2 linked regions of the Homo sapiens genome follow. The protein of the gene in region 2 interacts with the protein of the main gene of each other region in a biochemical or structural test. Each region holds a gene or a part of one and is shown on either strand. Other genes may lie near its edges.

Region 1 (3,749 bases), on a different chromosome or scaffold from region 2:
AGCAGTCCCCTGGGGCAGGAGGGATGCACATTAGCCTGCTCTACCAACCTGCCCCGGGGGGGGAAGCGGGTGCTAGGGAGAATCTGGGGTTCCTTGGCCAGGGTGCCACTTAACTCCCCTCAGCTTGCAGAAAAGACCCAGGAATCTGGGCAAACCAGCCCCAGCGCTGATAGCCAGATCCTGCCTGGGCTTGCAAGAGGGAGGGGTTGGGGCAGAGCCTGAAGGAGCGGGAATGGGGAACTACTGTGGAAAAAATACCCGGGACCCGACGCCCTGGGGGCCTACCCAGTGCTCCCTGGCAGATGTCTGTGCGGGTAGCTCCATCCACAATGAACTGGGGGTTTGACAGCAGTTCCTACGAGAGACCCAGAGTCCTGTTCCTCGGCCAGCCCCTCCCAGAAATTGGCACCAGGCCACCCCAGACCCCATTCCCCACCAGGGACATGGAGTCCCATCCCTACTCCTCATCCAGGATCTGGCTTAGCCGAGTCCCACCCAGGATGGCCCCTCTCACCGTGGGACGCTTCCACTTGATGCCATAGGTCTTGGAGGAATTGGGACCCAGGTCCTTGTAACCCAGGCTCTGGGGTACCGGGGGGAAGGCCTCATCACGGAAGAGGGTCCCACTCTGCAGGCATCGCACCCGCAGCTGCTCATAATCCTGGCCCAGGTACTTGATGGCATTCTCATGGCGGCCCAGGCCCAGCTCCCTGGCCCGCTGCTTCTGCACTTGGGCTGACACCCCAGTGCAGTACACCGGCGTGATGATCTCCTCCGACATCCTGCCGGACAGATGGGCCTGCTCAGAACCCAGGCCTTCCCAAGACTAGAACCTGGGCTCCTGCCTGCAAGCTCTGCTCTCCTGCCCCTGCTTATCCATCCCCAAACCTAGGGTTTCCCTGCCTCACTGCTCCCCTCACAGAAGTAGGGTTCTCAGCCACCTCCCGGTGCTCCCAGTGAATCCAGGAAAGGGATTTCCCAGTTCCCAGGCGTGCCGGCCACCTCTCCTTTCCCGGATCCCATTGTCAGGGGCTTGCAGCTCTGTAGTGAGCCAGCAGGTCAGGTGGGGCAGGGCGGAGCCTCCAGACAGCACAAGGAACTGGGCAGGTGGGACACAGCAGGGAAGGCCTCTTTGATCCTGTTCACAGGCCTGCAACCCCCTCCCCAAACTAACCAAGCTCCTGGTGCACCGGCCCCTTGCCGTGGGCTGAAAACCCCAGACGGTCGGGGTCCCCCTCCTCAGGCCCCCGCAGCAGGCTCGATATCAGAGCTGGTGGGCCCTAGCCCAGCCCCTGGGGACAGCGGTGAGCCAGGCTGGGACAGGCGCCTGGGCTGTGCCGCTCCGCCAGCCCCCACCCCTGCTCCAGGAACGCAGAGGCCCCCGAGAAGGGACCGTGCTGGGGCAGCCCCTCAGCCCAGGAGCAGTGGCCAGGGTCAAGGAATCCCGGCTCGGCTACCCAGCTTCTTACCTGGGGGAGGGGTGTTTGGGGGTCGCTGCAGTCCCTGAGGCTGGCTTCCCGGTGGCAGCTCAGGGCAGGGCCCAACCAGGAAGAGCGCTCCTCCCCGCCCTCCTCCCGCCGCCCCTCCGCCCTCCGCCCTCCCTCTCTCCTTCTCCTCCTCCTCCTCCTGGGGCTCCTACCCCGCTTCCTCTCGGCTCTCCCTTATCTCTCCGGCACGGTCTCTGACTATCTCTTACTCACGGTGTCTCCCCGCCCCTCCCTCCGCAGGCCGGGGGCCAATTCCGCGAGAGGACAAATTAGTAAAAGGCAGAGCAGTCCCCGGGGAGGGGCCAGCGCGGGGGGGGATGGGGGGGCTGGGGCGCGGCGGAAGGGCACCGCGGGGAACGGAGGGGGAGGGCCGGGCAGGGGGTATTTTTAACCAGGGGCAGCAGCTCGAGTTGCAGGGCCGGACGGCCGCACCCCACGCGCGCCCTGGCGGGCATTCCGGGGCGATTGTGCGGCGGCGCCGCCTCCCGCAGCCCCGGGCCCGCCCGGTCCCCAGCTCCCCTCGCTCCGCGCGACCGCAGCTGCTCCCGCCGTTCCCAGCCAGCCCCGGCGCGGGGCCGAGATTACCTCGGGCTGCGGCAGCTGCTCTGAGGAGGGGCCGGGCTGGCAGCGAGCAGACCCCTGCCGGACACTCAGCAAACGGCAGCCTCACCCCGCAGGGCCGCGCCACTCCCCTTCCCCACCCCACCGCCGCGTCCCGGCTCAGCGCTCCCCGGGGAACGCAGGGGGACCGGGCTCGCTGCGTGACCTTGGGTAAGTCCCTGCCCCGTTCGGCCCGACTTTCCGCATGCGTGCATCCTATGGGATGGGGTTGGGCAATTGTGGGAGCCCATCTTTCTCTAACGTTCTGGGGTTTCTTGAACCTGGAAACTTAGAGAGGTGGACATCCCTGTTCTCTCCCCCAGGCTCTCAGCCCACCCACCTGGAAGCGCCCATGTGTCACCTTACCCAGGAGAGGGCGGCAGAGGCTGCGAGCAGGACGGCAGCCCCCTCTCCCCACCCCCAGGACCCTGAGATCCTGCTTCACGGGCTGCAAGAAGTTGGGGGGCCAGGATTCGGCGCGGAGGCCGGGGGTGTGGGTGGGGAGACTGCAGAGACTCCCGAGACCCCCCCAAGTCAGGGCTTTTCGCTGGTCTCGCAGCCCCAGCCCAGCAGCTGCTGCAGTCTTGCATGTTGTGGATGCAAGCATTTTGCTGAGGAAACTGCATAGCGTTCCCAGGACTCTAGGGCCCACGACCCCTCAAAAGTTAAGAGCCGCTGATCTAATCTAACCCCACTTTCACCCTCAGTTAACAAAAGAGGAAAACTGAGGCCTGAGAGGGTGTGACTTGCCTGAAATACCTAACCTGGTGAGTGATGGGTGGAACCAGCTCCTAGGCTTTCTGCGCAGGTGTCCAGGGACAGAGAAGGGTGGTTTAAACTAGAGAGGTGGCAGGCAGAAGTAGATGGATTTGATAACTATTTAGGATACACCATCAAAATTTAACTCAAACTGGATTACACACCTAAATATAAATGGCCAAACCATAAAACTTTTTTTTTTAAAAATGGAGACAATCTTAACAATATTGGGTTTGAAAAGATTTCTTTTTTCTTTTCTAAAGGCAGGGTCTTGCTTTCATTGACCAGGCAGGAGTGCAGTGCCCTGATCACAGCTCACTGTAACTTTAAACTCCTGGGCTCAAGAGATCCTCTCACCTCAGCCTCCTGAGTAGCTGAGACTACAGGCACGTGCCACGACACACAGCTAATTTTTAAATTTTTTGTAGAAATGGGGTCCTGCTGTGTTACTCAGGCTGGTCATGAACTCCTGGGCTCAAGCAGTCCTCCTGCCTGAGCCTCCCAAAGTGCTGGGATTACAGGTGTGAGCTTTGGCACCTGGCCAGATTTCTTAAATATGACACAAAAAGTGTAAATGATAGAAGAAATCAATAAATTGAACTTCATCAAAATAAAACGCTTTTGTTTCTCAAAATGCACGAAACTATTAAAAATGAAAAGATAAGCCATAGACTAGGACGAATATTTGTAAAAATTCTATCTGATGTAGGACTTGTATAAAGAACTTTTACAATTGAATAAAAATCCAATAAAAATGGACAAAACATTTGTTTGTTTTCTGGTGTTTGTTTTTGTTTTTGAGATGGAGTCCCGCTCCATCACCCAGGTTGGAATGCAGTGGCGCGATCCTGGCTCACTGCAACCTCCACCTCCTGGGTTCAAGCAATTCTCCTGCCTCAGCCT
Region 2 (3,749 bases):
GGCGCTGCCAGGAGACTAGAGGTGGTGGGTGGGTGGTATTCCCTTTGCCCCACCCCCTCCTCCAGTAGCACCTCCTGCAGGATGGGTTGGCTGTGGTTCCAGCTTCTGCAAGGTGACCCTTGTCCTCCCTGTGTCCCTCTAGACTAGGGATGGTAGCAGCTTCCTGCAATTTCTAATCTCTGGGTTGCCTCACCCTCCCCTGACGGCTTCCCAGCCTTTTTTTTTTTTACCTGGGTAACCAATTCCCTATGTTACACTCCCTTTGTTTTAAATACTCAGAGTCATTTCTGTCTGTTAGTTGACTGCAATAAACTCTGATAGGGCAGAAACAGCCTAGATTTGTAAGGCTATATGACCGTGACCTTGGGCAGATAATTTAATTTTTCAGTTTCTTTTTGTAAAATAGGGCTAATGGTATCTATCCCAGGGGCTGGCAAATTTATGAAAAGAGTTGACATTAGTGAGGCACCTGGTTCATTGCCTTGTTCATTTTAAGAACACAATTAAAATTATTTCACTCCCTTCTTTTTCCCTGGCAATCTGACTGTGGTGAATTAGAAGCCAGTGAGTTAAGGTTTGAGGGTTTCATTTTCTAAGGCTGTAAACATTAGAACAGAAGAATTTAGTATTTTACTTTCCCTAAAGTACAAAGGAACCTTATCAGGTTCATCTGATTAAGTTTTTGTTTAGTACTTTGTCTATCTCATGACTGTGTATTATATATTATTCTCACATCTTCGTATAACACTCAAGGAGATAAACTACATGGGGGTTAAAGAATTCATTTTCCCAACAAACTACAGCAATTTGGTTACAAGGATGACTTATATTTGCAATTCCCATGCTTTAAAACATGTTGAAAGGGTGTGTGTGTGTGTGTGTGTGTGCACGCGTGTCTGTGCTGGTAGCTGTGACGGTTAACAGATAAAACAAGATTAGGACAATGTTGACAATTATTGACACCAATGATTGGTATATGAAGAGGTCATTATACTTATTTATTTATTTATTCATTTATTTATTGAGACGGAGTCTTGCTCTGTCGCCCGGGCTGGAGTGCAGTGGTGCAATCTCGGCTTACTGCAAGCTCCGCCTCGCGGGTTCACGCCATTCTCCTGCCTCAGCCTCCTGAGTAGCTGGAATTACAGGCGCCTGCCACCACGCCCAGCTAATTTTTTTGTATTTTTAGTAGAGATGGGGTTTCACCATCTTGGCCAGGCTGGTCTTGAACTCCTGACCTTGTGATCCATCCGCCTCAGCCTCCCAAAGTGCTGGGATTACAGGCGTGAGCCAACCGCACCCAGCCTCATTATACTCTTCTCTTATTCTGTGTACTAATGCTTAATATATATTAAGGATTAACTGCATAGCTGTAATTCTGAAATCCCTCTGTTTTCACTGAACCCCAAGTGTTCGTTTTTTCTAACATTTTAAGATTTCAGTGGACATGACAAGATGACACTGTAAAGGTACAGGCCCTTTGTGTCCAATTTTCAGAGGTGGCATCTATTGCCTGTCATAGATTAGCTCCTGGGATTCACCTGAAGTAAGGCTGGATGAGTTTTTCTTAAGTCAAAGGGGGTATCATGAGAATTTAAATAGTTGCTTTGTTGCCACAGCAGTTGTCATGAGAATGAACTTGTAGTTTTATCTATGAGAAATGCAAGAGGAGGCCAGGCACAGACCACTGCACGATTTTTTTGTGTCCACCGCACTCTGCACAAAACTGACACACAGCAGGTGGACAATAAACAACTGTGAACATCTTTGAGCTTTACCAAATTTATTCTTATGTTCTATGAGTTTCCTACAACCAAAACAAATTTCATACATTTTTAGGAAACTATAACTTTAGACCTTTTTCTTCCTGAGTTAACTGACTTTTCCATCTGAGGAGATAACTTACATGAACAGTGTTTATTGGATGGAACTGTTCTTGCATTTTTCTTAACTGGAAGACATCTGATATACTTCCCCCTGCCCCCCGCCTTTATGGTGGCTGTAAAGCTTTCTGGGTATGTTTTCATGAAAGGAAAATGAGACAACTCAAAGAACAGAACTTTAGTATCTGTTAATATGATTTTCATCTTAAAAATACCTCAAGGGGGAAAAATGATGTACTACTTAGAGTAGTTTTGTATCTGCTGAGACAATCTAGTCAGAACTAATTACCCACCTATCCACATGGAATCTCACATGACCCCCCACTGTTCCCACCCCCAGAAGGCTATAGCATTCTTTAAAAGGCACCTGTAGAATATAATTAACCTTCTGGGAAGTGCCAAAACTGATTTAAAGAAAGATATTATCAGATGCTACTCTTGGTTTAAAAGGCTTATACACAATGGGGCGCGAACTAATTCAAAGACTGTCAGCTGAAAGAGAAAGGCTGTATTTGACCTCTATGTTTCCATTACCCTAAAGTCTATGCCCTTTTTGCAGGCCCTGTTATTTGCCTTCCTTAGTTCTAAAATTCACTGTGAGCAAGTGATCTGTCCTGCCATGGAAGGCTTGCAACATTCTTCCCAGGCTGGCAGCAATGATGGGGCCTCCCAAATGACTGGGCTCCTTGATCATGCTGTCACTAGGTCTATGGATCTAATTAGGCTAAGAAACACCTTTAATTAACATAGTCTAATAGAATCAACTGATGATTCAGGAATGTGATGACTGGTGTGGGCCAAATTAACCTTCGTTCATGCTTGATCATTACATAGCTCATAGATGTTCTTCAAATTTAGCTCTGCAGAGTTGTGTGGTGTGTGTGTGTGTGTGTGTGTTTACTACAACCACATTTTTCAGAAGATAAAGTCAATAGGATTGATGGCATTCAATGTGGAAATATACATTGCAACGTTTCACTGACTAGCTTTATAGGTGGCATGCTGTTAAACGAACACATCTGAGACATGTCTTTTAATTATTTCATTTTATTCTGCCTAAATTTTGAAAGTTAGATCATTTATAACCTTTTCAGTACTTAAAGGATTCCACAAAGATATTTTAATTATAGGATTTACCTGAAGTATTCTGAGATGTCTGTGTATATACCGATATCTGTGTTTATATCTGTAGATATATATGCATATAAATCTGTCTATATATGTATTATACATGCATGTGTACATACAGACAGACATCTGTATTTATATCTGTAGATACATACACACATAAATCTAGATGTCTACATATGTATTATACATGCATGTGTGTATTATATATAAATATGCACATATATGTATATTGGATTGTATATGTTTGTATGTGTGTATGTATATGTGTGTGTGTGTGTGTATGTGTGTGTGTGTGTGTTATAAACTGGCTCCATGGACCTTTGGGGGATTTATGGGTGGTCTTTTGGAAATCTCTGAACTCCCTGAAGCTATATTGGAAACTGCATTTTGTGTATGTTTGTATGTATTTTGTTGTGGGAAAGCAGTCCATAAATCCCATTTGATTCTCAAAATTGTCTGTGACCACCCACCTATCACCAAAGGAAAAAAAGAAAGTTTAGGAGTCCATGGTCTAGCGCTATACTGTCCATTACTATAGCCCCTAGCTGCTTGTGGCTACTGAACACTCTTGAAATGTGGCAAGTGTGAATTGAGATGTGCTGTTAATGTAAATATACATTGGATTTTGAAGAATTAGTATAAAAAAGAATGTAAAATATCTCAATGGCTTATACACTGATTACATGATGAAATAATAATATGTGGGATATAGTAGGTTAAGTAAAATATATCAAT

What was found. Proteins that work in one complex are often made in the same cells at the same time.
Region 1: the proteins of CAST (region 2) and CAPN1 are reported together in a solved structure, tested with the Homo sapiens proteins (one study listed by BioGRID).

What each region holds. Positions count from the first base shown.
Region 1 is NC_000011.10:65,179,734-65,183,482, reverse strand, and holds the start of CAPN1 (calpain-1 catalytic subunit), read right to left. Parts: upstream 1,556-3,749; 5' UTR 1,470-1,555; intron 1,032-1,469; exon of another isoform or gene 942-1,031; intron 783-941; 5' UTR 782-782; coding exon 515-781; intron 356-514; coding exon 286-355; intron 10-285; coding exon 1-9. UniProt on the Homo sapiens protein: Calcium-regulated non-lysosomal thiol-protease which catalyzes limited proteolysis of substrates involved in cytoskeletal remodeling and signal transduction. Proteolytically cleaves CTBP1 at 'Asn-375', 'Gly-387' and 'His-409'.
Region 2 is NC_000005.10:96,665,289-96,669,037, reverse strand, and holds part of CAST (calpastatin), read right to left. Parts: intron 1-3,749.